Homo sapiens: one gene and its partners. The protein of the gene in region 3 purifies or fractionates together with the protein of the main gene of each other region. This does not show direct contact. Each region holds a gene or a part of one and is shown on either strand. Other genes may lie near its edges. The genes, in order: AP3S1, GNPTAB and IGSF6.

What was found.
Region 1: the proteins of IGSF6 (region 3) and AP3S1 purify together in Homo sapiens (affinity purification with mass spectrometry; 2 studies listed by BioGRID and IntAct, with this or other methods). This does not show direct contact.
Region 2: the proteins of IGSF6 (region 3) and GNPTAB purify together in Homo sapiens (affinity purification with mass spectrometry; 2 studies listed by BioGRID and IntAct, with this or other methods). This does not show direct contact.

What each region holds. Positions count from the first base shown.
Region 1 is NC_000005.10:115,905,872-115,915,901, reverse strand, and holds the end of AP3S1 (AP-3 complex subunit sigma-1), read right to left. Parts: intron 9,082-10,030; coding exon of another isoform or gene 9,046-9,081; exon of another isoform or gene 9,041-9,045; intron 3,814-9,040; coding exon of another isoform or gene 3,766-3,813; exon of another isoform or gene 2,547-3,765; intron 2,541-2,546; coding exon 2,412-2,540; 3' UTR 1,821-2,411; downstream 1-1,820. UniProt on the Homo sapiens protein: Part of the AP-3 complex, an adaptor-related complex which is not clathrin-associated. The complex is associated with the Golgi region as well as more peripheral structures.
Region 2 is NC_000012.12:101,824,577-101,835,803, forward strand, and holds the start of GNPTAB (N-acetylglucosamine-1-phosphotransferase subunits alpha/beta precursor), read right to left. Parts: upstream 6,384-11,227; 5' UTR 6,100-6,383; coding exon 5,983-6,099; intron 1-5,982. UniProt on the Homo sapiens protein: Catalyzes the formation of mannose 6-phosphate (M6P) markers on high mannose type oligosaccharides in the Golgi apparatus.
Region 3 is NC_000016.10:21,647,655-21,658,026, forward strand, and holds the start of IGSF6 (immunoglobulin superfamily member 6 precursor), read right to left. Parts: upstream 4,955-10,372; 5' UTR 4,945-4,954; coding exon 4,878-4,944; intron 1-4,877. Other genes in the region: METTL9 (protein-L-histidine N-pros-methyltransferase isoform 1 precursor), read left to right, coding at 7,573-7,778.

The DNA of each region.
Region 1 (10,030 bases), on a different chromosome or scaffold from region 3:
CATTAAAGAGCTCACTCTCCCTCTTGCCCATTTTGCTGTTGGCTCCTTGCTGTTTCTCAAACATCTCAAGCACGCCCCTGCCTCTGGGCCCTGCCATCTGCTACTTGCTATGTGGATTTACTCTTGCTCCACAAGTTCCCATGATGCCTTCCTTACCTCCTTCAGGTTTTTGTTCAAATGTTACTTCATCAGAGATGCCTCCTCCTACCTATTCTATAAATCACAGCAACAGCCCAGCTCCTACCCCCAACCCTACTATTCCCTATCTTTTACCCAGGTTTACTTTTCTCCATAGCACTTCTCACCTCCTGACATATCATATATTTATTGTTTCACCCCACATGAATTTATGTTCCAACAGAATCTAGTTTGTTCCCTGCTCTATCCTAGTACCCAGAACAATGCCTGGCACATAGCTAATGCTAAGTATTTTCTGCAGGAAAGAAAAGAGAGAGGGAGGGGAGATGAGAGAATGGAAGGGGAGGAAGGATGGTTGGTTGTTGGGGCATTGTATTTGATAGAATATAATGGGAGATAAAACACTTTTGACTGTTTCTTGAAGTTAAAGTATGCTCTGGCCCAGAGGTTTCCCTAATTTTGGCATATCCTAACCAAACCAACATTTAACCTTCCCATAATTTGTTTCCCCAAAAACAACGAGAAAAGGAAAAGGGTGGGGTGGTGGTGAGGGGAGGGGGTACTGCTAGGCACTCTGTGTTACTGATATCGCTCCATAAAGACAGGGACGGCCGGGTGCGGTGGCTCACGCCTGTAATCCCAGCACTTTGGGAGGCTGAGGCAGGCGGATCACGAGGTCAGGAGATCCAGACCATCCTGGCTAACACGGTGAAACCCCGTCTCTACTAAAAATTAGCCAGGCGTGGTGGCGGGCGCCTGTAGTCCCAGCTACTCGGGAGGCTGAGGCAGGAGAATGGTGTGAACCCGGGAGGCACAGTTGCAGTGAGCCGAGATCGCGCACTGCACTCCAGCCTGGGCGACAGAGCGAGACTCCTTCTGGGAAAAAAAAAAAAAAAAAAAAAAAAAAAAGACAGGGACTTGGGAGCGCACAGTAAACACTTAATAAACACTGTCAAATGACTAAAGACCAGGGACCTCCTGAAATGCTCTACTCTGCATAACCTTTCTCTAGGACTTTTTCTTATCTCTGAGCTGATGGAAATCCCAATAATCAGATTAAATTTCCTGTTACCCTAACATGCTGGAGAGCTTAGAGACAGATTAATTTTATTTAGAAAAAAATAAAGTAACTTTTCTTATATCTTAGGGTTCTTGGAGTAAAATTCATACATGCTGCAAGTCTATGGAAGTATTTCAAAGAGAATATTTGAGGAAGGAGAACTAGAACTGTAAGGAAAACCTTAGTCTAACTGGAAAAGTAACCTCACTCACAGTTCATGGAAGACCAAATAAAATGTGGGCCAATTATAAGAAACTAGAATATGTGAGTGTTAGGACTTAAGAAAACATTAGTTTAACTTTGTTTTAGGATGAAACAGACAAGTAGAGTCCCAAGGGTTTTTGTATTCAAAATCAATTAGGTATTGGCTGAAATTATTTTTTACCATCTGGGCAAGAAGGAACAAGAGGCAAGGCTTAAAGCTATTTGTATAAAAAAGATTTTACATTTTCTCAATATACATTTTAGAAAGACTGTCGCCCCCCCACTCCAGATCTCATCTTGCGCAATATGCCTAAGATACACTGCTCTTGATTTGTGAAATAATTGAGTTTCCGAATAATTTACTGAGTTTCTGAATATTAAAAATATGAGTAAAAAATAAATCGACATTAACATCTGCTTAATAGTGATAAAATATACTTTTATTTACTTTGTTGAGTCAGAGGGTTGTAAAAAAAATTATTGCTAAAGTAGATATCAGGCAAACAGAAAGGTGCTTTAGAAGTCCAGTTACCTTGGAGTTTATTTAAACTAAGAGAAAAAAGTCATAATGTTTTCATGCAATACATACTTGGTTCTCCAAATAACAACTGTGTGACATATAGCAGAAGGAATTAAGGAATGCTGCACTTGTGATCCATACAAAACACCAACATTTTAGGTTGTACATAATTAGAGAAATATCTGAAACACTTTTTAAAACACTGTAGTAGCCAATACATAGAGGCATGCCGTAGGTGGGCACAGGAATGCAGTTTAGAAAAGAAAAAAAAAAATCACATAGGAACTACTCAATTTCTTTAAAATCACTGAGCAAGAACAGCAACATTGAACTTTCATACTGATTTTACACAACTTCTATACAGTACCTTGACTTAAATCCAAGAGCAAAAGTTAAGACTCTCCTCCTCTATTTTTGGTAAACAACTGCATGGTAAACTTAGATGACTCTTCCCCCTGGATTTTACCTGGGAGTGGCCTTTTTACATTTTTATTTAAAAGAGGGCAGGTTTGGCACTTTTATACTGATGTCACCAATGTTAATATTTCTTGGGATCTCAGGAAGATTCATATTCTTTACAGCTGATACAGCACGGGCTGGAGCTCCTGCTAAGCCAGCCTGTATACAGAAGCAAATAAAAGAAAAAGAAAATGTACAACTCAGGTGTAGCTCATCATAAAACACTTACAATGGAAGACAATGATAAAAGATTTTCATATAACAAGCTTAGGGACCAGATGGTAGTTTGAATTGGTATGGAATGGTTACTTTGAAATACTAATCTATAAAGAGAAAACAGTGACACATTAAAAAATACAGTGAACACATGCAATGATAACAATGTAAAGATTTAAATACAAATTAATGTGCACTACCACACAATATTCACATGATAAAACCTAAATCTTCACCTATATCTTGATTTAACTGACAGATAGCATGAAGCATGATTTACATTAGTTTCCTTATTAAATATCTCTTGCAACGATTGTGATAGATTTTCTTTTGCTTTTAAAATGGCATTTATTAGCAATATGTGCTGTGAAATAAAAATTGCAAGTAATAGATTGTGCTTGTTTAATTTCTTAGGGATAAACCCTTAAAACATTTTAAAACAATAAAATTAGTTTTTTAAATTGTGAGGGCTCTTTTAAACTTTTCTAATAAAGTTCTAGAACATTAAAAAAATAGGCTTTCAAGTAAAGCCTCAATCCAAAGAATATAGTTCTGCCTAAAGATGAAACTACACGAAGAGGATCATTCCAACCCTTTGATGCATTAGTAAAAATATAACGATTAAAAATGTTTTGTCATATAGCATAGATTCAGCAACATATATTCAGCTTACAGTTTACAAATTTAGAGAAAGAAAAGCATAAATGCAAGAGGTAGTAAATATAAATAAATGAATTCTAAAATTTCCAGTAAGTACCACTAGTGCATAATATTTGGCTTTCCTATTAGTAGGAACATTTGTAATTTGTGAAATAATTTTAAAAGAAAATATGCTTACAAATAAAAGAAAATGCATACATATCATTTTTCTCACCTACGTTAACAGCCTTCATATTTGAGGTTTAATTTATATACCAATTACATTTCATTACTTTTTATTCAGGCTATATAATAAAGCAAAGTCAACAAAGACATCTGAGTTCAGTGGCATCATTTTGTACAAAAATAGACAACAAAAACGAATCTTCCACTTTGATTAGATTATATATGGCAATGTCCATAAAATTAGAAACACTAGCTTTAAGGTCCCTTTTCATAATTTTAGTTTTCTTTTCTTATGTAATCCTACCTTTGTTAATTAAAATAAAAATAATAATAAAGCTGTTACCTGAGAAAAATCTTGACTGATACAAAATAGGCCAGTGTAAACTATTTGCTAAATAAAGGATACAAACATTGTTAAGCAATGAAATAAAAGCCATGGATTATCAATTCAGAATTGGAAATAATAGAAAAATTAGTAGAATAGTATTAATAATAAGTATATTCTACACAGGCAATGATAAGAGTGATACAAATGAATAACTCCATACCCAATTAAATAGTGAATAGGGCTGGAGAAGTTTTATAATTTAATGGATGTTAGTTATTTTTGATGTACAACTAAAAATGTGATTGACCTCTATACTTATACCTACCTGAAGCAATGAAGTTTTTGTTACCCCCCCTTCCTTCCTGCTCCCCCAAAGATGTTGGAGATACAACTAAATAATAATTAAGGCAGCATGTATAATATTTGAAAGGGTCTTTAATTTGATCGTTTCAAGTTAAAGGTCTAGCTACCAAAATTTAGAGTGGGTTGGGATCAAAGAAGAATCCAATTCAAAGAGGTTTACCATCTTTTGGCTTTCTTTTACCAGGAAGTATGTTGTCTACTAAGGAAGAAAAATTTACAAAATTGCAGACGTCCTGGAGGTAGTATCATTTTTTAGATAGGAGGATTTTGTAATTTTTCTAGTTAAAAGACCAATTTGCCACTATTTTTACTTAGGAATTTCCATAAAGAAGACAAATAATGAACTGACTATAGAAAAGTATTGACAAAATATTTGAGTATAAATATTTTAAAGGTGTGAATTATTAAGGGATTTTATTATTGTGAGAGAAATTGTGCGTGTGTGTGTGTGTGTTTATCTGTGTATTTTATTGGACACTATGGTTTACACTTATAAATAGTAAACATAATGTTTTCAGTATTAAATGTACATGAAGCTCTCTTTTCCATAATATCCTGTACCATGAAGAGCTAAACTAAAGCAAAAAATAAATTAAAAAAATTTAAAAATGCATCCTGTTAAATTTCATTAGATTGAGTTGTATCATTGTGACCAAAGATGGTGTCGACTGTTGGCTGCTAACAAGAATACATAAAGTCAATATAGCAATTGATTTAAATAGCATATTTGTGCTTAATATGTAAAACCAAAAGAAGTTTCTAAGTACAACAAACTACAATTCTTCTAAACATAAGCAGCAAGCCATAGACATGCAAAAGATAGGAACTATTCAGAACACGCAAATGAATTAGGAGGATCAAATTATTTCTCAAGCATGTTCAATACTTTTGTGTAGTATGCCATGAATTTAAATGGTAGGAAAATTTAAAGTTGTAATAGGTGCTTTAAGTTTTAATTAAACTAACGTTTTAAAAAGAAATCATATTATGCAAAATATAAAATGTTGAGAAAATATGATAAGGACAATTGATCAACAGATGTTTAAACCAGCTAGCAATGTTTATATATAAAAATTTAGGGCTAAAAAAAAAGACTTTATGTCACTCAGTCAACACCAGAATGGCTATAAAACAAATTTCATTTTCAGACATTCATGAAAGTGATGCCTGAAACATTTTTATTAAAACATAAAATGTAAAGTAACTTTCCATTAGGCAATCAGTTTGCTGACACAGAGGTATGAAGTAATTTTCATCTTGGTTAAGATTTTTTTTTTTTCCAGTAAGATACATTCAAAGCAACAAAATAACTTTTACTAACACTTAACTTTTCAACGCTAAAACTTACAGAAATTGTTTACCTGACTTGTTAGCAGTACAGTAGTCCCCCCTTACCCGCAATTTCACTTTCCATGGTTTCATTTACCCGTGGTTAACTGTGGTCTGAAAATAAGTGTGTGCAGTACAATATTGTGATAGAGAAAGGCCTCAATCACATAACTTTTTTTTTTTTTTTTTTTTTTAAGAGACAGGGTCTCACTCTGTCACCCACAGTGGAGTGAGTGATGCAATCATGGCTCACTGCAGCCTTGAACTCCTGGGCTCAAGTGATCTTCCCATCTGTCTCCTGAATAGTTAGAACTACAGGTGTGTCCCACCACGCCTAGCTAATGTAAAAAATATACATTTGTAGAGATGGGGTCTCACTGTGTTGCCCAGACTGGCTCAAACTCCTGGCCTCAAGTGAGTCTTCTGCCTTGGCCCCTCAAAGTGTTGGTATTATAGGCGTGAGCCAGTGCACCTGGCCTCACATGACTTTTATTGCATTATACTGTTATAACTGTTCTCTTTTATTATTAGTTGTTAATCTCTTACCGTGCCTATTTTATAAATTAAATTTTATCATATGTATATATGCATAGGAAAAAACATAGCATATATAAGGTTCAGTAGTATACACAGTTTCAGGCATCCACTGGGGGTTTTGGAATGTACCCAACACAGGTAAGGGGGGATTACTGTAAATACATTTTTAAACGTAAAAGTAAGATATTTCTGACAGTACAACATAGTTCTTAAAGATTTAAGATTATATAGTTGACACACAGCAGAAATAAAAAGAATGAAATTCTACTGGAGAAATAACTTGTTTCCATCTATGTTATACCTGAGCACCACCATGGCAGGTAAAACTGCAGCGACTACACCAATAAAAACAAATATATGAATCCAAAGCAGTTAAGAATATGAACTGGATGAAAGAATGAAGTACAGTATATAAAAGAATGATCATGTTTTCTCTCCCATGAGATTAAATAAATTAACAGAATTAAGAGAAAGAAAACAAAATGAAGTCTGCAAGTATACCAAAATGAGGCCAAACAGATAAAGACTTATACAGACATACTCTTGGAAATTTCAAGCACTTGAATCACAAAGATAGTAATGGATGGATATGATTTGTTTTTGATTTTGTTTTTAAATTGCCAGACCCAAAAATAAACAAAATATGTGCAAGCAAAACTGAAAAAGCAGCATTACTAAAATGTATTTCGAAGACCCTGAAAGCTCCCTTTTCCTCATGCAATAAACAATCAACTTTCTTGAAGGGAAAAGGAAAGTAATAGAGTAATCTTGTTATTTATTTCATCTAAGACATAAAATACCATCCTACCATCTTAAAATATCTTTTTTTTTTTCAAGTTTGAATACAGCATAATAAGATGGTAGTTGGAACAAACTGTACGTATTAAAACCTTTACCCACCCTTCCTGCTGGAAGTTGCTATATGCACATTCATAATTTTGACCTAACAGCAAAGTGAAAGAACACCAACATTAATAAACACAATATTAAATGGTTTCAGACTCAAAATCATTAACAAAATAATGGCAGATTTTGAAAGCATGTTTTTGAGCAAAAAAGAAAATGTCAATAGTTTAAAAAATCCCTCAACACGAGGTAGAATAACTTTTAATCTGGGGATATATAATAGGCTTTGTTTTAATGGCAGTGCTTTAATACTGCAATTATAAACATTTAGATAAGCTCATGACAATTCTCTAGACAGCAATAACTATGGTGTTTCACAGTTTTAACAAAATTAGAGTGCTCAAAAATTTAAAAAACCTTCCAAATTATTAGTCATTTTGTACGGATTATCTTCAATTATAGCTTTAATTTCAAACATAGGATTTGCCTGCATGAAAAAAAGAGAGCAGACTAATGACTTTCATGGATTTATCATTACTAGTTTTGACCATTACAAGTGACCTCAAGGGTTCTCACCATAATTTTGTAGAAGTACAAGACAAATGTGTATGTCAAGGTAGAGAGGCAGAACCAGCTCATGAGCTGACCTTCCACCATCAGTACCTTAGAGCCACTTTTCTTATTCTCTCCTCTTTGAAAACAGAAACTTGATTTTTTTTAAAAAAGGCCAATTAACAGTTCTAGCAATAAAGTTAACAGACCCAAGTGATTAATGGTTCTTTGCTGGAAAATAGCAGTAATAAATTACATACTGTAACACAGAAACTGGCAATAATTCTGACCAATGGTGAGAATGAGACTACTATGTATTCTCTATATGAGGGACAAAATAACATGGATAGAGGGACCAAAAACGGTACCCCAGTTTTGTGACATAGCCCACAATCTCAAAATAAGATACTATAAAGCCACCTGTATGTTGCTACTTCTTCTCAAACACATCGAGAGAGTAAGTAAAAATTTAGTGGCTAAAAGGCAATGCTTTGTGATATCACCACAATCATCAATTCTCAGTGATGTTTTTCTAATTAGTAAGTGCATAATCTAACTTCGTAAGTTTATACATTTTTTCCTCCATAGGACTCAATAAATTACTTTTATTTTGAAATTTTCAATCAGAGACCTTATAAACATTTCTTTTGCTTACATGGTTTCACACAAAATAGTTGCTCATCACCACGTACATGGAACTTTTAAAAAAGTAATTCACACAGTTAATTTATGGTGTGAAAAAACGTACAGGAAATATCAGAAGAAAAATTAGTTTTGTAAAACTAGAGGTCTATTAAAAATATTTCCAATATTTGCCAATACGCTTTGCAAAAATATTCAGGGTTTTTAATTCAATACTAAAACATTAATATATTTTTATTGATTCTGATTATGACATGTTTGGATGTCAGAAGGTTTGCTACAATGAAAACCCATTGTATTTTGGTGATTTGGTAATTTGGTAATTCCATTTTTCGAGCATTCTAGTTTGAAATACAGTCAAGTTTTATAAGATTTCTGATCTTATTTTCTGTTGGCCACTGTTAATATGCACCTGCAGGTCAAAACTGTAAAAGCAATTCTGTTAAGACTTTGGAACTGAAAACCATTTGAGGGGAAAAAGTACTATTTAACAGTCACTATTCTAAGCCTTCACTGCTTCCCATTTTGTATGCAAAACTCTGAAGGTTCAGCTTTTGGTTTTTAAATTCACAGCTTCCAAAACCCAGCAGGCAATTTTATGTTAGAATCCTAATTTAGAGATGGAAAAAAAACAAATCTGTGAGAGTTAAATTAAGATTGGTTCTGCTATATGATGCTCAAAATAAATTTTACGTTTTTATATACAAAGTAAATTGTCACTTCTGCAAATGCAATTTGTCAGTTAGATGACAAGTGTTTAAAAAAAATTTAAACTTTCCTTTTACAATGCAGGCAGACAAAACAGAACAAACATGACATCAATGATATACTAGTAAAATACACTAAGTCCAATAAAAGATGAAGAAACTACAAGGAGAAACTAGAATGGAAAATAGGCTACAGGGACTATATGGGTTTATTAACACAAAGAATTTTTGAGTCTGGCCTAAATAATTAATTGCCTTTGACATCATTTTGCTTTCCCTTTGTTATAGTACATATTTCTCAAAGTCAGCAATACCTTGTCTACCTGTCCTGTCTGGGAGACTGAAAGATAAAGGTCTGTAAGAGAGAAGAATGGAAAGAGCTAGAAAGATCAGGATGTTCGGAAAAAAAAGAGGACTGACTTTCAAAAAGTAGTGACTAAATTCAGACCCATTTATCCATCTTAAGAATAACATGAAATACATAAAAGCTAACAGATCTCCCCAACCCCACCCCTCTACCTCCACCCCCAGGGAGTCCTTTTATTCTTAGGCAGGTTCCTGAGTGCCTCTTATACTTCCCCCGAATCCCATCAACCTCCCAGCTTAAACCCTCCTCTCCCAATATTCCAATGTTATAGTAAACCATTTTTCTATCAAAATAGAATAGATGGAAATACATTCAGAGTATATCTTTGCTTCTCTCTTTCAGGATCTGGCAGAGCTTTGCTTCCACCTGTCTAGGTATTGGGAATTAAACTGGTTCACTTTTTTCCATTACCAGAAATGTACTAACTTTAGACCAACATAATAAAAGCTCTGATTTCTGACAAAGGCCCCTAGATAAATGCATGTTATGTTTAAAAAGCTGTGTCTCAATTATACCCAGACTGATTTTTAAATATAAATGATGTTCCTAAGATATTACTTAAATAATTTTTAAAAATATTGATAACCAGTTCTTTTCATCAATCATGACATTCTCGATTTTAAACAAGTCTTTTTTTGTGTGTTTGTTTTTGAGACGGAGTCTTACTCTGTCACGCAGGCTGGAGTGCAGTGGTGCAATATCAGCTCACTGCAACCTCCGCCTCCCGGAATCGGGCGATTCTTGCGCGTCAGGCTCCAGAGCAACTAGGATTACAGGCAAGTGCCACCATGCCTGGATAATTTTTTTGTATTTTTAGTAGAGACGGGATTTCACCATATTTGCCAGGCTGGTCTCAAACTCCTGACCTCAGGTGAGCAGATCACCTGAGTGATCCCAAAGTGCTGGGATTACAGGCGTGAGCCACTGCGCCCAGCCA
Region 2 (11,227 bases), on a different chromosome or scaffold from region 3:
CTGCCTCAGCCTACCAAGTAGCTGGGACTACAGGCATGCACCACCACGCCCAGTTAATTTTTGTATTTTTTGTAGAGACAGGGTTTCACCATGTTGGCCAGGCTGCTTTCGAACTCGCCTTGGCCTCCCAAAGTGCTGGGATTACACACATGAGCCACCACACCTGGCCTCATCCTATATTTTTCAATTATCCCAGTTAACAAACTGGTTAATAATAAACTAGTTAATAAGCTAGGTCTGAGTTGGGAGTCTGTCACTTGCAACCTAGTGCTGTTAACTAATTCTAGCTGCAATGTTAAACCACTAGTAATTCAAAAAGAAAAAGCGATCACAAACTTCTCTGACATTACCAACTTTATGCTAAAATTACTCCCACCACTTCCTAAAATAATCTTTCCTTGTCTCTCTTCTGTTTAAACTCCTACTTGTCCATGAAGCCTCCCTAAAGCTCATGCCTCCTTGAAAAGGTGTCAGAACTGCCTCGAGGATGTTTCAACCCACAACATTCTTCTGTCTTCTGACTTTCTAAGCAATTGTTGTGTACTAACTCAGGCATTCAATTGCTTATTCCCCTGTGTTGTTATTCAGTCCTCATACATACATCTTGGCCTCATCTCAACTAAACAATAGCCAAAGGCATGAGCTATAATTATTTGTATCTCTGACAGCATTTTCCACTGTATATTCTGACGACAGCATCTTCCACTGTACAGTCTAACAACAGGTCTCAGATTTTTAGAGAAAGTTACCAGAGCAGGAATGACTCTCAGAGCATGAAAATGTTCAAGTTATATCAGATCAATCACATTTGAGAAATAAAAGGGAACTATAAACGCTACATCAGAGCAAAAAATTTACCTTTACTTGAAATAAATTTGAAAGGATGTCAGTTAAGATCAACCCAATTAATCAATCCATTCATTCATGCATCCATCAAGTATTTATTCAGCATCTACTGGGTACCAATCACTTTCTAGTGGCTAAGAATACAGCAGAGAATAAGACAAGGTCCCTACTTTGATAGTTAGCTGGACTATGTACCTCTCACAAACCCCCCAAAACAAAGAGACCCTTTAAAAAGGCTCTGTGTGGCCATTGGCATCTCTAGTATAAAATCCATTACAAGTCATGCTTCTCATGTGAAGTATCCAATAAATGTATATTCACAAAACATTAAAGCTAAAATGAGGCTCTTAGAAATATAGTCTCATAGTTTGTAAACATTTTTTAAACAATGAAACCTTTCCCAGAAAACAAGTCCACACGAAATAGATAAGAGGGGCTACTCCCAACCCACAAGGCAGCTGGGAGTAACTCAGTTTGGGAACCACTGAGGATCACAATTTGTGCTGCACCTAGGAGCAGGCCAGACGGTCCCCACTCTCAGGCCAGGCCTCTTTCTAACTCATCTGTTTGTTGCCTTTGGCCAAGAACACACTCAAATATATCTGTTTAATGAGTGAACTAATCAAATACAAAAATGATAACTAATTTCTTGAAATAAGGCCAGTATAAGACACTGGTCACCACTGAGGCTGAACATAACTTGAGCTAGACCCAGTTTTCAATTCTCCTTTTCACAGAAAATAACTCATTGATTCAAAATGGCAACAGAAAAGCAGGAAAGCAAAAGGGAGCAGAGAGGTCACGGAAAAATTACCATTCATTACGAGTAGATTCTATGTGAACCTATTTTGCTTCCTTATGCAAGTTAATTCTTGGATATTTGTTTCCATACTTAGTGCACAAAGGAAGTGATACGTTATACATACACCATACCCCCACACACAGATACACATACACATATACACACTGATCTACAACCCTCTATTAGTAATCCTGAAATCCAAAATGCTCTGAATACTGGAGGGGCTTTCAACTTTTTGTTTCTAATTTTTAATTTTTTTAATTTTATTTTTCTGATTTTTAATTTTTTTTTTTTTTCAAAACAGACCAGCCCTACCTAGAGATCTTTTTGTACCTTATTTGGCAACTAAACTTGACCTGCCCTGTACTTATTTGGTGGCAAAATGACTAAACTGACTTGAGGCTAGGTATAGTCTGTATTTTCCTGAGTGTGAAGAATTGTGGACTTGTATATAAATGGTTCGATTAAATAATGATGGCCCTGAAATAATAAATTTTAACTCAAAAACACGTTTTAAAATCTATACAGTAGCAACTAACAGAGAACAAATTATTTAAAAACCAGAAGTTTCTAAGCTAAAAAGGATCTTAAGAGCAGTCAATCTAGTAACACCATTTGTGGAGCTAACTAATTTACAATAGACTGATTACCTGCTACCTACAGTCCAAGGCAATGCATTTTTGTGACCACTAGTCCCCATTCTGAAGGCTCTCCCTGTGGGAGTTGTTTTTTTTTTTTTTTTTTTTTTTTTTTTGAGACCAGGTCTACCAGGCTGGAGTGCATGGCACAATCACAGGCACTGCACCTCAAACTCCTGGGCTCAAGCAACACTCCTGCCACAGCCTCCTGCCTCCTGAGCAGCTGGGACTACAGGCATGTGCCACCACACCTAGCTAACTTTTTTTATTTATGTATTTATTTTTGAGACAAGGTTTCACTCTGTCACCCAGGCTTAAGTGCAGTGGTGCAATCACGGCTCATGCAGCCTCAACCACCAGGGCTCAAGTGATCCTCCCACCCCAGTCTCCCAAGCAACTGGGACTACTCTACTTTTTTTGCAGAGATAGGGTTTCGCCATGTTGCCCAGGCTGGTCTCAAACTCCTGAGCTCAAGCAATTCTCCTGCCTCGGCCTGCCAAAGTGCTGGGATTACAGGTGTGAGCCACCACGCCCAGCCTTTATTTTTATTTTTTTTTGTAGAGACAGGGTCTCCTTTGTTTCCCAGGCTTGTCCAACTCCTGACTTCAAGCAATCCTCCAGCCTTAGTCTCCCAAAGTCCTGGGATTACAGGCATGAGCCACCTCACCCAGCTTGTTTTGTTTGATACTTCCTTCCCTCAATTCTACTTCTCGAAGTTTGGATGAATATAGAAAAGGCTTATCAAAATACAGCATCAAATACCTGTTATATTGAGAGGAGGAGACGATAACAAATTTACAGTTAACAATGATCTTCTGAGGGCCAGGCACAGTGGCTCGCACCTATAATCCCAGCATTTTGGGAGGCCAAGGCAGGCGGATCACCTAAGGTCCAGAGTTTGAGACCAGCCTGGCCAACATGGTGAAACCCTGTCTCTACTAAAAATACAAAAACTTAGTCTAGCGTGATGGCGGGTGCCTATAATCCCAGCTACTCCGGAGGGTGGGGCAGGGAAAATTACTTGAACCTGGAAGGTGGAGGTTGCAGTGAGCTGAGATCACCCCACTGCACTCCAGCGTGGGCAAGAGTGAGACTCTATCTCAAAACAAAACAAAAAAAACAATGATCTTCTTAGTCCAAAAGGACTTACAATTAGTGAGCTTACAATCCATTACAATTAGTGAGATTATTAACAAGTTGGTAATATTAACTATATGATCAAAGTATTCTGATTCAAGGATATATTTCAAAATAAGGTTTAAGGACATAAAAGAGTTGATAATATAATAGCAGCAGTAGCCATGACCATTTAATGAGGGTCTGTTATGTAGTAGGAACTGTGTGAGGTGCTTTACATACCCATCTTATTTAATCCTCATCAACCCTGCAAGGAAGGTAATCTGGCCTCCATTTCAAAGATAAGGAAGCTCAGAGAGGTTAAATATCCTTCCCAAGATCAGACAAGGAACAGCCTGGGCTGTTTGAGAAACCATAAAAAGGGGTGCTCAAGAGCACAGCTTAGGCTGGTCGTGGTGGCTCACGCCTGTAATCCCATGGGAGACCAAAGCAAGCGAATCATGAGGTCAGGAGTTCGAGACCAGTCTGGCCAACATAGTGAAACCCCATCTCTACTAAAAATACAAAAAATTAGCCAGGTGTGGTGGCACGCACCTGTAATCCCAGCTACTTGGGAGGCTGAGACATGAGAATCACGTGAACCCAGGAGGCGAGACATGAGAATCACGTGAACCCAGGAGGCAGAGGTTGCAGTGAGCCGAGATTGCGCCATTGCACTCCAGCTTGGGTGACAGTGTGAGACTCCATCTCAAAAAACAAACAAAAAAAAAAGCACAGCTCTGAGCCAGCCTGGCTTGGTTTGAAGCCCAGCTCTGCCACAAATTAGCTGGATTCTAATGCAAATGCATCCATTTCATCACCTATAAAATGGTTATAATAATAGCACCTATCCCACAGGGGTGATGTTGTGAGGATTAAATCAGTTAACATATGTAAAGCAATTAAGAGAGTGCCTGATACCTGTTAAGACCAATATAAGTATTAGCTATTATTATGATCATTATCAACTGGAGTCAGCAATCAAGGCCAAATCTGCCTAATCATGCAGCTCCTCTTTTCCATTATGCCTTACAAGTTAACCACAGGCCAGCTGCCTTCACCTCTCATGACACCTGTTGGCACTGTCTGCCTCTCATTTCTCTTGTCTGTTCCAAACCTTATGATCTGTGGCCATTTCAGGACTGCAACAAAATGTCTCTCTTTTGGTAAACAGCCAAGCATGGAATGAAAGCAAAAAGAAAAGGATATAAAATGAAAAATTCGGGCCAGGTGCGGTGGCTTACACCTGTAATCCCAACACTTTGGGAGGCCAAGGCAGGCAGATCACTTGAGGTCAGAAGTTTGAGACCAGCCTGGCCAACATAGTGAAACTCCATCTCTACTAAAAATACAAAAATTAGCTGTGCATGGTGGTACGCGCCTGTAGTCCCAGCTACTCAGGAGGCTGAGGTAGGAGAATTTCTTGAACCTGAGAGGTAGAGGTTGCAATGAGCCGAGATGGAGCCACTGCATTCCAGCCTGGGCAACAGAGCAAGACTCTGTCTCAAAAAAATAAAATAAAATGAAGAATTCTAACACCTGATGCCTTTAAGTCATCTTCACACTGCATGGGACTTAATAAACAGTTAACTCAAAATTAATCAAGGCCAAAAAAATCACACAAAAGCAATAAGGCACCTAACTACACACAGATACATTAAGTTGCAACACATGAAACAAAGACGAGCAAGTACTATAATATTAAGTACATATTTCACACTTACAAATCTGGAGCTTTCTCACCCTTATGGTAAGACATTTTTTCCCAGCCTCTAGAACCAAGAACTACTAAAAAAGTACATGCTCAGAATTCATGCCATATAATTTAGCCATTAAACAAACACTTGCACTGCATTCTCTGGCAGTACCTGGCACTGTGCTTGGGCCAGGGTTACAGTATTTACAGACAGCACCTTCTCTTACGGAGCTTACAATCCAGCATGGGTAAAGACTTCAAGCAAATGTATACTGTGGCATTTCTAAAAACTACTCTGTTAAATTTTAAAACCTTTTGTAACCTCCTACCAAAAAAAAAAAAAAAAAAGAAAAAGAAAAAAACTAAAACTAAGGAACAGATTTCAAACCACTTAAAAATACAGCTTTCCTCCCCGTTGCTAAAAGTGGCTTTCTTGGGCCAGGTGCGGTAGCTCATGCCTGTAACCCCAGCACTTTAGAAAGCCAAGAAGGGAGGATCACTTGAGCCCAGGACTTCCAGACCAACCTGGGCAACATAGGGAGACCTCCGTCTCTATTTTTAAAAAACGGTGGGCGAGGGAGCAATATCTAAAATCACATACATGCCTTTTTCCAGTTCTGACTTGCTCATAGTCTCTGCACACGTTTATGATAAAGAATACTGTATTTGGCCGGGAGCGGTGGCTCACGCCTGTAATCCCAGCACTCGGGGACGCCGAGACAGGGCGATCGCCTGAGCTCAGGAGTTCGAGACCAGCCTGGGCAACATGGCAAAACCCCGTCTCTAATAATGAAAAAATACATACTGTATCGGGGCATCGCGGGGCACGGCGAGGGCAGTGCAGGGTCGAGGCGCCCGGTCCAGGCTGCGGCGCCGCTACTCACCTCTCCGAACTGGAAGGCGGAGACGATGGTGACAACGACGCCCAAGAAGCACACGTAGAGCCCATACCTGTGGGACAGGCAGGTATAGGTCTGTCTCTGCAGGAGCTTGAACAGCATCACCCCTTCACCGCCACGCCACGCCCCGAGGAGCCTGAGCCGCCGCCGCCGCCGCCGCCGCCTCAGCGAGCCGCCATTCAGGGGCCCCGGTCGGGCCGCCGCGCGCAGGTCACAGCCTCCGGGCGCCGCTCATTGCAGCTCCGGCGACGGACGCCCGCTCGGCTCCGCGCCGCGGCCGCCGCTTCCGGGAGCCGGGAGCCCACGCCCTCGGCGCGGCGGAGGCGGACCTGCGGCCGGCGAGGCGGCCGGCGCCGCCCGGGTCTGGCCGGGCGAGAGGCGGCTGCGGCGGCGGCGGGGTCTCCAGCGCCACCTGGAGGACGGAGGGGCATAGGGAAGGTGCGCGCCCTCCCCACCTGCGCTTGCGCAGCGGGCCCTGAGGGCTGGGCTGGGAGGGGCGGAGCTGAGCTGGGATCCACTTACCCGGTTGGGCAGGCGACCAAGAGAAAACTGCCCCCTGCGTCGAGACTGTGCCATAGACGGTACTATAATGCCATGAATATTTTTGTGCATAAAACCTTCTCTGCACTTAGCATTCTCTGCAGAGTGCTAAAAGGAGATGCTGTATGTGGCTCCTTTCCTCCAACCCCCAACTATATTGTTTGAAAGAGGAAACCTTTGGGTTAAATCTGCCAAAACCGAATTTCGTTCATTCATTTAGTCGTTAAATATGTAATTTGTGCCTGTTAGGTGGCATAGTGCTTGGTGTCAGGTATTCAAAAATGAACTAGACCTGGCTACTGTTCTCAGAGAGTCTAGTGGGGGAGATAAACATGTAAACCACTAAATACAAGAGTTGTTATGATAGAAATCATGCGATGAACTGGAGGGGAACCAGCTCAGGGGTGGCCAGGTAATCCGACTTTGACAGCAGGTTTTTCCCACGAGATCCTTTCCTTGGTGCCTCTGATTTACGAAAGGGAGATCTTTTTCTTAATCCCAATGCACCCTAGTCAATAAGATTTTTTTCCTAGTCACCCTGGGAAACAATACACTTATCTAATGTTGCCATCATTCAAAGCATTTTTAAAAATATCTTGGGAACCAGCTTCAGGAAATACTCAAATTCGCACCCTCAGTTTGATGGTCAGGTGGAATTAACAGACTTGCAAAAGGGGTTAGCTTCACTCCAATCCAAGGCAAGATTTTTTACACTTTGCAGTCACTTCTTTTAATCCTTCTTTTAAAAAAGATGATTGATATATGCTATATGTACATGGCAAAAGATTATTGCAGTTGTACAAGACACATATAGTTCTGAGGTCTTTTCAAGCATGATAACAGATCTGAGGACTTAATCAGAAGGGGTAAAAAAGCATGGTAACAGATATAAAAACATCTGCCACTCAACAGGACTCTCAGGATAATGGCCAACATTTATGTAGCATCTGCCATGTGCCCAGCTCATCTAATCCTCACAATAATCTTATAATGGAGATACCATTATTATCCCCATTCTACAGATCAAGAAACTGTGATGAAAAAAAGTAACTATCTAACATCACACAAATAGTAAATGACAGAATTGAGATTTGAACCAGGTACTTAGGCTGTAGAACAGGGCCAAGATTAGGGGAAGGTACTGTGAAATGAGTCATGCAAGTTTGGAGTGAGATTCTGTCTTTGTTTATAGTTTTGATATCGGGGCTGGGTGTGGTGGCTCATGCATGTAATCCCAATACTTTGGGAGGTCAATGTGGGAGGATAGCTTGAGCCCAGGAGTCTGGGAGCCCAGAAGTTTGAGACCAGCCTGGGTAACAGACCCTGTTCCTATTAAAATAAAAAAAAAATTTAAAACGTAAAATAAAACATAAAGTTTGGGTGTTTTGCTTTTCATGGATATTCTTCAGTAATGTTTTTTGTTTTTTTTGTTTTTTGGGTTTTTTTTTTTTTTTTGAGACAGAGTCTTGCTCTGTTGCCCAGGCTGGGTTGCAGTGGCGTGATCTCAGCTCACTGCAACATCCGCCTCCTGGCTTCAAGCAATTCTCCTGACTCAGCCTCCTGAGTAGCTGGGATTACAGGCACATGCCACCACCCCCGGCTAATTTTTGCATTTTTAGTAGAGATGGGGTTTCAGCATCTTGGTCAGGCTGGTCTTGAACTCCTGACCTCAAGTGATTCACCTGCCTTGACCTCCCAAAGTGCTAGGATTACAAGCATGAGCCACTGCGCCCAACCATTAATTTTGATTTTTTAAAAATATTGCATTAGGCTGGGCACGGTGGCTCACGCCTATAATCCCAGCACTTTGGGAGGCTGAGGCGAGTGGATCACCTGAGGTCAGGAGTCTGAGACCAGCCTGACCAACATGGAGAAACCCCATCTCTACTAAAAATACAAAATTAGCAGGGCATGGTGGCACATGCCTGTAATCCCAGCTACTCAGGAAGCTGAGGCAGGAGAATCACTTGAACCCGGGAGGCAGAGGTTGCGGTCAGCCGAGATCGTGCCATTGCACTCCAGCCTGGGCAACAAGAGTGAAACTCCATCTAATAAAAAAAAAAAAAAAAATATATATATATAGCATTAAAATATTATTCCTCTTGATTAGTGAGTTTTTTGGAGTTCCCTCGGATTTTCCACCCAAGACAAGTGCTTCACTGTCCTCACTTTAGTCCTAGCCTTGCCTAGAACCTGTCCTTCTTAAAAAGTATGCTTTGTTGTAGTATGAATTACCCTTAAATTTTTCCTTTATCTTTAGGCTCCAACTAGACAGCCTCAAGGGAGGTCAGGAGCATTGTCTAAGTCCTTTCTTCTAGAGAACTTGCTCTTGTTCACTCCCTTTTCCCCCTCCTCAGGCAGTATGGTTGAACTTAAATAAAATAAATGTGGGTGCAATATGATATACCTGTAGTAGCTACCTTATACAGTTAGGAGGGTTATGTAAAATAACACATGAAAATGCTCAAGTGCCTGCGACATTTTTAGTGTTGGAAAAATTTAAGAAAATTAACATTTAGCCTTGTTCTGAAAGCAATGAGGTTTTCAGCAGGAGAATTAACTGATTAAATATGCACTTCAAGAACATTAGTAGTATGTAAATGCATAAGTTGTGGAAATTATTTTTTTAAATTTTTTGTAGAGACAGGGTCTCACTATGTTGCCCAGGCTGGTGTTGAACTTCTGGGCTCAAGCAATCCTCCCACTTTGGCCTCCCAACATGCTGGGAGCCACCTCACCTGGCCTGGAAATGATTTTAAACTCTCCACATCTGAACAGTGGAAAAAATATGCAGTAGCATCCCATTTATCTGGAAATATTTTATCTGGCAACCTAAAAGAGCCAGAAAAGCCAAAAGATCAAAAAGGATTCCCAGGAACCCAGTGAAACCCCTGAGTTTTGCTTTTAGAAGAACCCCACAGTCCCTCTCAAAATCTGATAAATATAATTCCGAGAAACTGTCATCTGGGTTCTCAGTCTATAGCAGATAAATAAATAAATAAAGAGGTCCCTTTCCTGCCTTTCTCCCAAACATGAAGTAACTAGAGAAAAAAATGATGTAGAAAATATTTTTTAAAAAAGTCAAATGAATTCCAAAAATGTAATCATCTTCACATCAATGATGTAGATATCTGTAAGAGCAGAGAGATAGAGTGAAGGCAACAGTACCTCCAAGTACAGTCAGTAGGCTAATATGGCATATAGTGGTGAGCTCAATCTATGAGAAAAGTTTAAGTAATGGTTAGTGTTTATTCAGCATTTGTGAATGAATGCTTTGTGCTGGGCATTTTATTGGACATTGAGTCTATCTCGTAATGACTTAGGTACCCCAATACTTGGGTACCAAGAAAGACATGGTCCCTGCTTTTGTGGGATTTACACTCTGGAGGGGCATATATATATTGGATTAGTATTGTGAGGGGCACTAACCTAGCCTGGGAGGTCAGGGATGGCTTCCTGGAGGAGGTGATACTAAAGATTGAGCTGGAGGACTCAAGATGTGGGGTGGGAAGGGAACTATGTTCCAGGCAAGGCTGGCCACATGGAAGGCCTAATCTAAGGCAAGAAGGGCTGGAGATGCAATGAAATGGAACTAGAGAGTCTGGCAGGATCTTAAAGGCCATAGCAAGAATGAAAGACCTTATCCTAAAGACAATGAAGAATTTTAATAAAGTCTAACAAATGACACAATCAGATAATGAATTTCAAGAGTTATCATAACTGTGGCGTGGAAAATGTATTGGAGGGGGCCTGAGGAGTTGAAATGAGACCAGTGATAGTAGAGTTGCCAGATAAAATACCCAGTTAAATGTGAATTTCAGATAAGCAGCCACATACATTTAGCATAAGCAAATCCCATGCAATACTTAAAAAGCTTTATTTACTTGAAATTCACATATAACTGTGTGTCCTGTATTTTTTATTTTATTTTATTTTTTTGAGATGGAGTTTCGCTCTTACTGCCCAGGCCAGATTGCAATGACGTGATCTTGGCTCACTGTAACCTCTGCCTTTTGGGTTCAAGTGATTCTCATGCCTCAGCCTCCTGAGTAGCTCGTATTACAGGTGCCCACCACCACACTCAGCTAATTTTTTGTATTTTTAGTAGAGACAGGGTTTCACCATGTTGGCCAGGCTGGTCTTGAACTCCTGACCTCAGGTGATCCACCCGCCTCAGCCTCCTAAAGTGTTGGGATTACAGACGTGAGCCACCGTGCCCAGCTGTGTCCTGTATTTTTATTTGCTGCAGATGTTCTGAGCCACTCTTGACCAGGCATGGGAATTCCTGTCCCTTGGCCCAAGCCAGTGCCTAGAAAGTGTATCTGAGTCAGGGATGAAGTATTAGCCTATATATCCCCTTGTCCATAGATGTAAAACAACATTCTGCAGTTAATTTCATTAATATTAAAGCTGATCCTCATCTGCCTGTATCTTGCATGATCTTCTCAATTGGTTCAAAACTCAGGAGACAATGAGAATGTTTTTATGTATTGGACCCTAAAACATTTACCATCTTTGAGTCTCCCTTTGCTTAGCCAGGGTGAAAACTGAACATCCAAAGAAAACAATCTTGCTCAATCAGGGACCTCTTGTCCCAGGCCTACACATATTTTGTGTATAGAAATAGTGTGCTTCAAAAGCCTCACTGTGAGGTCATAAGAAAATTAAAGAGCTTTCAGTAGCTGATTAA
Region 3 (10,372 bases):
ACTCCTCCTGTTTTCTGACCTTGACCTGCTGGGTCACATGATGTCTGTTCACTGGAGGCCAGCCCTAGAGAGGCTTCAGGGGAACAGAGTCCCTGTGCAGGAGGCCTGCATAGAGGTGGCACCGTATTGGACTCAGAAGTTTGGGGTCCATCTGTGACTCTTGCTCCTTACAAGCTTTCCTTCGATCCAATCACTTAATCTCCTGCCTGCTTTCTTGTCCGCACCCTGGCCTCCCCAGAGTGCTGTGTTCAGTGTGGTAACCTGTGTCCCCAGACGAACGTTGCTGCCGCTGATGGAGCCTATGAGCAGCAGCGATGTTTGTGCTTTGTGGGAGTTGAGATCGCCAGGAATTCATGGCCATTCACAATTGTTTCTTTGTGAGCCTGGTGTCCCTTTGGGAAACATGATAAAAGGCAACATGTACACCTGTGGAAATGCAGCCCTGGCTTAGCCTACCATGTCTTTGATTACTGAGCAGGGACCATATGAGCTCGCCAGGCCATAGCTAAGCAGATTTGGTTTCTCCCTGGCGTGTGTGCTGCTTTGTAGGCCCTTGTAGCATTTATCTTATTTAATTAACAATATTGTGATAAAGAGCACAGACTTGAGTTCAAATCCTAGCTCTGCCTGTTCCCAGCATTATAATCTCAGTATCTCAGTTTCCTCATTAGAAAATGGGGATAGTATTGTTGACCTCATGCAGTTAGTGTGACGTTCAAGATGATGCCTAGGAAGTGTTTACCTGCCTAAGCTATAGTAAGTATTAAATACAAGGGAGCGATTGCTGCTGCAGCCGCCACTGCTACTGTTCCCACAGTGTCAGATGGCTGTTGGAGAGATGGTTGTGGACGTCTAGCCACAAGGTGTTCACAGAGCTGGGATTAGTCACCCACTCCAGTGTACTGTCCACCATGTGGTGCTCTTCCAAGTTATGAGGATTGAGTCCCCCACCTTGGCCTTTATATCCCAGGCATGTGAAGCTGGAAAGCCACTCGAGTGCACAAATGGAAAGACCCGCCCTAAACCCTTCTTTTGCGGCAGGGGAGGCCATAGGTAAAATAGTATTGGTTGAGACAAATTGGAATTTGTCAAGTTTTTGGTCTGAGTTCCGCCTGGTCATATATTCCCAAATGGTCCTATTTGTGTGAGTTTGTCCTTTGCTACTGTAAATGAAACTGAAAAGTCATCCAAGTGGTCTGATGCTTAATTTTCAGACAGGGGCTTTTTTCTCTTAGCGTTTCTCTTATGGATCCCCATTCATAACAGCAGAGGAATTAAAGTTAGAATCATGGCGTTTGTGATGCGAGTCTCTTCTCACCATGTTTTTTTGTTTTTGTTTTCATTTTTGTTATTGTTTTTGGACAGAGTCTCTGTCTCCCAGGCTGGAGTGCAATGGTGCAATCACGGCACACTGCAACTGTGACCTCCCAGGTTCAAGCCATCATCCTGCCTTAGCTTCTCAAAAGTAGCTGGGACTGTAGGCCTGCAGCACTGTGCCCAGCTAATTTTTGTATTTTTTGTAGAGACAGGGTTTCACCTTGTTACCTAGGCTGATCTTGCACCCCTAAACTCAAGCGACCCGCTTGCCTCGGCCTTCCAAAGTGCTGGGATTACAGGTGTGAGCCACTGCGCCTTGCTCTCTTCTCATCATGTTATATTTTAGTATTTGTGCAACATGAGATGAGCTGGGAGCTCTGTGGTGACCTGATAAATGCAAACCAGACAAGAGGGTGCAGTCACCTGGAGGAGGCCTGCAAGCTTCTCTGAGCTTCGTGTCTGTGGGAGGCCCAGCTCAGCTCCATCTCCAGCCAAGGGGATTGGATTCCCTCTCAAGTCTGAGAAATACAACCTCATGTCTCCTGCCCAGACTCAAGCACCTTACAAGTACAGTGAAACATTTTATAGTATATACTGAGTGGAAATTTAAAATGGAATTGGGTCTGCCAAAACTTAGCAAAGTTAAGCACTGTCTCAGTCTCAAGTCATCTTTCAGATAATGTTTTTATTTTTATTTGTAAAATTATTTTTAAAAAGTGGACGATTCCATTATTTACACATTTTTATTTTTGAGATAGGGTCCCACTGTGTCGCCCAAACTGGAATGCAGTGGTGTGATCTTGGCTAACTTACTGTAGCCTTTGTCTTCTGGGCTCAAGCAATCCTCTCACTGCAGCCTCTGGAGTAGCTGAGACTATAGGTGTGCACCACCACGCCTGGCTAATTTTTTTATTTTTAGTAGAGACAGGGTTTTGCGATGTTGGCCAGCCTGGTCTTAAACTCCTGGGCTCAAGCAATCCACTCGCCTCAGCCTTCCAAATTGGGTAGTGTTTTTAAAAGGGAAGCCAAAGAGCCAGGCGTGGTGGTGTGGCCATTAGTCACAGCTACTCAGGAGGCTGAGACCGGAGGCTGATTGAGCCCAGGAATTCCAGGCTGCAGTGAGCTGTGATGGCACCACTGCACTCCAGCCTGGGCAGCATTGTGAGTCCCTGTCTCTATTAAAGGAATAGAGTCTGGACGTGCACTCCAGCCTGGGCAGCATTGTGAGATCCTGTCTCTATAAAAGGAATAGAGGCTGGGCATGGTGGCTCACGCCTGTAATCCCAGCACTTTGGGATGCCGAGGCGGGCAGATCACCTGAGGTCAGGCGTTCGAGACTAGCCTGGCCAACATGGTAAAACCCCATCTTTACTAAAAATACAAAAAATTAGCCAGGTGTGGTGGTGGACGCCTGTAATCCCAGCTACTTGGGAGGCTGAAGCAGGAGAATCGCTTGAACGTAGGAGGTGGAGGTTGCAGTGAGCTGAGATTGTGCCACTGCACTCTAGCCTGGGTGACAGAGTGAGACTCTTGTCTCAAAAAAAAAAAAAAAAAAAATAGAGGTTGGGGTGGCGGGGATAGCTGACTTTCAACACTTTTCTTTAAAAACTAGTAGTATAGGATAAAAACAGGTATTTGTAACTTTGGAATTTCATATCTCTACTTATTTCCACCTTCTTCCCAATTAGGCTATGTGTGGGAGAAAACCAATTGTAATGATTTCCTCTGTGAGCAGGAACTTGTGATGAAACTGTGGTTCCCTCCCCCAACCAGTTAGGCAACCTATTAACAAAAAAGAGAAGTTTGGATATGTCACACCACAGCCTGCTTCTGTGAATGATTTCTTTTAAGAATCCTCATATTCTAGGAATTGTTTTTTAAACACAGTATCCAATGAAAAGGTTGAAGATTTATTTCCTCCATGGAGGGAATAGAAAGATTATTCTTATTATTTTAAAAAACCATATTGAGGCTGGGCATGGTGGCTCATGCCTGTAATCCCAGCATTATGGGAGGCCGAGGCGGGCGGATCACGAGGTCAGGAGATCGAGACCATCCTGGCTAACACGGTGAAACGCTGTCTCTACTAAAAATACAAAAAATTAGCCGGGTGTGGTGGCAGATGCCTGTAGTCCCAGCTACTCGGGAGGCTGAGGCAGGAGAATGGCGTGAACCCGGGAGGCGGAGCTTGCAGTGAGCCGAGATCTTGCCACTGCACTCCAGCCTGGGTGACAGAGCGAGACTCCGTCTCAAACAAACAAAAAAGCCATATTGAAAGTAGGAAGAGAACTAATTCTTGACATTTAAACAAAGCTGTCTCTCTATCTAGTAAGTAAGAAGTAAGTAAATGTCTTGCTCTGTTGCCCAGGCTGGAGTGCAGTGGCACAATCACAGCTCCCTATAGCCTGAAAGTCCTGGGCTCAAGTGATCCTCCTGCCTCAGCCTCCCAGGTGGGTGGGACTGCAGGTGCAGTGCAGGTGCCATCACGCCCAGCTATTTTTTTTTCTTGTGTAGAAATGGGGGTCTCATTATGTTGTTCATGCTGGTCTTGAACTCCTGAGCTCAAGTGATCCTCTCACCTTGGCCCCCAAAGTGCTGGGATTACAGGCATGAACCACCACGCCCAGCCCAAAGCTTTATTATATTAGATTTCAAATTTCTAACATATCAAAGTAGCGAAGTAGTACAGTCAACCCCCTGCCATCACATGGCTTCGACCCAATCTTGTTTCTTTTCTCCTCCCACCTACTCCCTCACTCCCATATTATTTTAGAGCAAATCCCAGCCATTTTATCTGCATCTTTCAGAATATATCTCTAAAAGACAGGAATTCTTCTTTAAAATAATGCTAATTAAAATAGTCTATGAAAGTAATATATACTTATTAGCAAAAAACAGGTTATTAAAAGTAGAAGCAAAAAGTCACCCATAGTCCTTTTGCCTGAAATAACTCCCATTAACATTTTGATATATTTCTTCACAGATGAGAAAAAATTAAGAACTTTCCCCCCTTCCCTGCCCTATAATCCAAATTGTGTGGGCAAATCTGAGATTACTAGATGTATTGGAAATCCTTTCTCTTTCATAGATAAAAAAACAGAAGTAGACAGAATTTTAAAAATAGATATACTATGGGATGGCTATTGGAGTCATGGCAGTTTTTTTTTTCTTAAATGAAAAGTACTTTTATAGAAATTGTTCTTTGAAAATATTCAGCAAATAATCATTTATTGCTTTCTATGTGCAGATCAAGTTTGTATGATAATTAAATTATTGATAACTTATACCTACGATTTTAAGAATATTTTCAACCCTTTGGTCAGATTGTCTCCAATTAGCATAATAGCAAAGAGACTTTTCAAGGTTAATATGAAACTTTTTCTCAGCTATTTTTTTATTGTCTATTTCTCAGGGGAAAAAGGAAACTTATCCTCTTAGGCAGTTTTCATAATGTTATACATTTAAAAATTAATCTGAAGGAGCTTAAAATATAAATGCATTAGGTGAAAAATAGCAGTTGATTTAAATAAAATGAAGGAGGAGAAGAAAAAGAACCTTACCGACACAAAATAGAATGAGATTGGTTTGCAGATGGCGAGCGATGTTGCTTCTGCTCGCAGTCCCCATTTCTGTGTATGCCGGGGCGGGTTGGGGTGTGTATTTGAAAGGAAAGTTGGCTTTCTTTTTTCAGAAGGGAAGAAGAGCTGAAGAGAGGAACCTCTTATGAAGGAACCATAATCAGGAACTTTTTGAAATTGTGCAAGGATGGCTTCACCATTTAACATTGAGATTTTGGCCTGGAGCACATTTAGAAATGTGCATATCTTTTTTTTTTCCATGGATTTTACAGTTGTCATAGGTGTTAGATGTTTCTGGGTGAGATTTTGATTTACACCTAGCACATATTTCCAGGAAGGAGTATTGTTTGACAAATAATTCGTACTTGGATTTTTCAGAACAGTTCAGTCACTGTCTAGGGTACCTGCTCTGGGTGCCACTCTGGGCCAGTAACTGCTGGGAACAAAGAACAGCAGAAGGAGAAGTGGCTTTGTGTAGAGATGAGAAAAGTTAGTAAACAACACATTCTAATGCAGCGAATAAATAAATTGTCTGTTATTAACTTTTTGTACTCCAGTTTTGAATCCAAAGACACCTGCCTTCCCCCCTTTTTTGACAGGGTCTCTATCACCCAGGCTGGAATGCAGTGGCAAGATTGCAGGTCATTGCAGCCTCAGCTTCCTGAGTAGCTGGGACTACAGGCATGCACCACCACCCCTGGCTAATTTTTTTTTTTTTTTGTAGATTCTGTGTTGTCTAGGCTAGTCCTGCCCTCAAGCGATCCCCCTGCCTTGGCCTCCCAAAGTGTTAGGATTACAGGTGTGAGCCACCATGCCTGGCCCAAAGACCCCCTTTTAATGTGTTGAGAAACAAATATGTGGGCCCTCTGTCCTCTGTGTCCTCTCCCCCAGCACTTAGTGGTGATTCAGTAAGGGTCTTCTTTGTAAAGCAGCAGAAACAGACTCAGGCTGACTTAAAAGGAAATTTATGCAAACATTTGAAGGTAGATCCTAGAGTCACTGGGAGGGCTAGTGAATCTTGTGTGGGGTCCACAGCCAGGAAGAATGCCTCAAATCACACCATAAACAGGTCTGAAGAGGATGCTACTGCCACTGCCAAACACTAGGTGCCATCAGCCCTGTTGTCAGCATCGCTCAACCACTGCCCCAGCCCCTTGGTCTCACTGCCATTGCTCCACCCCCAGAGAAGGAGAAGCTCACATCCCCACTACTCTGGGTCACTGGCTCTCCATTCCAGGGCATGGGCAAGTGTGCCTGGCTTAGGCTGCGTGCCAGTGCCTCAGCTGCACGGCAGGCCAGGAAAGCGGCTCCCAGGCCTTGTGTCTCTCCCAGACTCTGGGCAGGCAATTCCCCAGACATGGGAAGAGCGTCATCTGCACCACTGAAAATTATGAAAAATCTCCCCACCATGATATGATGTCTGTGCCCTTGGCATCTGCTCATGATATATTTTCTCATTAACAGAAAGTTATTCTCAGTCTGTTTTGTTTTTTTTTTTTTTTTTTTTTTTGAGACAGAGTCTCGCTCTGTCGCCCAGGCTGGAGTGCAGTGGCACGATCTTGGCTCGCTGCAAGCTCCGCCTCCCGGGTTCACACCATTCTCCTGCCTCAGCCTCCCAAGTAGCTGGGACTACAGGTGCATGTTGCCATGCCCAGCTAATTTTTTTGTATTTTTTTTAGTAGAGACGGGGTTTCACTGTGTTAGTCAGGATGGTCTTGATCTCCTGACCTCGTGATCCGCCCACCTCGGCCTCCCAAAGTGCTGGGATTACAGGCATGTGCCACCACGCCCGGCCTCAATCTGGTTTTAACACTTCAACAGATGTATGTAGTTTTTGTATCACCATAGCACCTAAAAAGTACCCCCAAAGTTAAATATACTGTCATCTCTGTGTGTGTGTCTGTAGTCAGTGCCAGGTTTGTATGTGAATTTGAGGACCTTCCCTAGTCCCCTTGTCCCCCAGGCATCTCCTGCTCATAGGTTTGGAAATGACTGATAGAGGCTTCATCTCTAGTCCAAGAAATGCTGGACGGTGTATCCATCCTACTGTTCCATCTCTCTCTGGTCCTGGAGCTTAATGTTTATGAAATTGTTCTGAAAAGGCAAAGAATGAGTCAACTTCCCTAGAAAAACTCCCCAATGATCTGCTTTTCTAAATTAAAATCCTTCATGAGCCTGTTTTTATTTTCAGCCTAATAAATCTCTCTAGGTAGTAAGTTGCATAAGTTTACTATGCCAGTGGTATTTTCTTGCATTTGTCCAAAACTGTCCTTCAGATATTACATGTTGCTCTCTGTTTCAGTATTCCAGCATTTAATGACCAGTTTTCCAAACCCATTAACCATTACACCCTGCAGTCAGTCTATTGGCAGATACTACCCAAAACTGTCAGAGAAGATAACAGTGTGGGGCCTTGGATCCAGACAAACCTGGGCTTACATTTCCATACTGACACTCATTAACCTTGCAAGCGTGGGCAAGTTCTTCACCCCTTCTGAGTCTGTTCTTTATCTGCCCACCTGTCTCAAAGAGTACCTGGGAAGTACAAAAGAGGTAACTCATGAAGCCCTCAGGCTTGGAACGTACCAAGTCCTTGGTAGATATGGCTCCTCCCTGCTTCCCTCTTTAAATCACTTGTTTGTTCAAGAATTTAACTGAATGTTCTTATTTGTATTAGTAGGTGGCAAGTGGGAGAAACCATCAGAAATTTTGGAAATCAAAGGACAGAACTGGGAAGAACAAGTGAATAGTCTGCCTGAAGTTTTCAGAAAAGCTGGTTTTGTTATCGAAGCTTTCACCAGACTACCATACCTGTGTGAAGGCGACATGTATAATGACTACTACGTTCTGGATGACGCTGTCTTTGTTCTCAAACCAGTATAAACACGTGGAGGTCGAAGTCTTCAGAGTCCGCACCCTCCGGGATGTGCCCTTGGAAGAGGGTCTGTGTTCACAATTACGTGAAGGGAGGACCCTTGGGGACCGCCATTCTAAATATCATGTAGGAATTTAAAAAGCCAAAATACTAATTATTTCTTTGTAGTGTGTAAAGGAATGTTTTTAAAAGACAAAAACCCAACTCTTTGTGGATTTTTATCAACTCTTTACTCAGAGCCACTCTCCAATGCAGGTCACACTCCAATTATGATGGAAGATATTTTTTATACTTAATTGCAGTAGGGACTCATTCCCAGACAAAGCAATAGTCACGACTTCATGGAACCAATCAATGGATTGTTTTTTGAAGACTGGCAATAAAGCTGTCCATTCAATTCCAAATACTGGTTTTAAGGTATAGCCACTGATATTCTTTCATGTTTAGAAATTCTTTCTGTTATTATTCAAGAAAATGTTTTTAATCATGCTAATAAACTTTTTTGGAGATGACTTTGGCATCATGTTTGAATTCATATAAAGCTCCCCTAGCATTTTTTATTGGTTTGGCTTCAGGAGTACCCAAATAGTAGCATTATGAGAATGACGCAGACAATTTGAATAGGGGGGAAGGAAGGCTTCAGACTTGGGGGAAGGGGAGATTATTGCAAATTGCAGTGAACACTGAGTCAGTAAAAAAAAAAAACAGAAACAAAAACCCAGCCTCATTCAGATACAGAACTTCAGGGACCCCTCCCCCCACCCCCCCAGTTAATGCTGCTGTGAAAAATGCAAAATAACCTGGTTCTGACTTTGTGATCACTCATGTCCCATACACTGAACTTTGTTTTTTTCTGGACAATCTCAGGTTCTCAGAATTGAAACATTCAGTTTTGTCTACTGACAAAATGCAACTAAAAATGTTTTAATTCAACTTCTTACTCTACACTTATATACCTCTCTCCCAGAGCTTGGCTCTTCCCTGAAATCCTTAAAGGAGTTTATTATTTGCCAAGAATATGGTTTGATGAAGACCGTGTCAGACTCATGCATTCTGGAATCCGTGAGTGCCTCCAACCATAAACCCAGAAATGCTGCCATAGAGGAACCCATTAGCAAGATCAATAACCATCGTGGATATTCCAAAGAGCAGAGCATTTAACCCAGAATCTGAAATCTCAGTAATAACAGAAATGTCAATATGAGATTGTGGTTATTAACAATATGTTATCCTCACTACTTTATTTCTTTTTTCATCCAGGTGTTTCATTAAGTATTCTCATTTATATGCTCATAGAAGTCATCAGATCAACACATTCACTCCAACACCTGGGTATAAAGGCGAATTAAAACCTGAAGAATTACTTTATTATTCATTAAGAACTGCATTCCCACATCCTCACACCAATATCTTCCACTGTTACTGTGCAGTCATAATAAGAGTTGGGTTATGTGATTTATGCAAAATTGTTATTGGTGTGTTCTAATGATTTTTTTCCAGGAATTCAAGTAAGTGAAGTACAAATACTTAGCACCATAGATTGTAAAAATAGAAAGAGGAAATGAGAAAACTTAATGTCGTTCTTGTACAGTTGAGTTTTGCTTCTTTATAAACTGTCTGTTAAAATCAGGGGTTGCTGTTAGACTGTCAAGCAGAAGTGATGGATGTTCAAGGAGGCAGGTTGCCCCAAAGTGTTTTCTAACTTTCAAGTAGAGAACTTTATGCTCTAATAAGAAAAATACAACTCATTCTTAACCACCCCCCCAAAACAGAGAAAACACATACATTTATGCATTTTAAAGATAAAAAGTAGTTTCTCAAAAAAATCTGAAGTTCTCTGAAAACCAGCTTATTAAAAGTGCTGTTTTGTGGTGAAAATTGAAACCAAATCCACTCACATTTCCTATCGGGTCTTGAAATTCTTGGTGGTGTGTCACCATTCCACTAGATGGCAGTGTTGCTTACTGAGTGTCAATGGCTTTTTTCCCCGTAAATGGAATCATGTTTTTCTCCCCCAAAGTACAATAAAGCTGCCTTGTCTGCACCATTCCTCGTGTAAGTGCTTCATATCAAGTTAAGACTGTACTAGAGAAATTAAGAAGAGCTTTATTTGTGGTAAAAGCAAGCTAACCAATTGACCTTAAAGGTTGAAATGCAAGCCACACCTCTGATTCCTAGCTCCCTGCACCTGCATTTTAAGCTCCTAAAGTGCTCAGACCACTGATCTCAGAGAAGGGGAGGAAAGGAGGTACAGTGCCCTTAGTCATTTATCCCTTGTACAGAGTAGTTAAAAGCAGTACTGTATTTTCTGCCATCCAGTGTGACCTGTCATCAGTTTTTACATGGTTGGCTTTTAACAGAAAAAAGTTGAGTTGGAAAATAAAGTGTAGATGTTTCAAGTCTTCCTGAGCAAAGCTTTGTTTTCACTTGGTTCTGAGTATAGTATTAATAGGCTATACTGCGTATGTTATTTACAGTATTAATGAAGCAAGATGTTTTCATTAATTGCTTCCCACTACTTGGTTACTGATGGAGGTGTTACATGATCCTTTTTCTCCAGCAATGTCAGTATAGTATCATGGGCTTCCAGTGACTAAAGTGA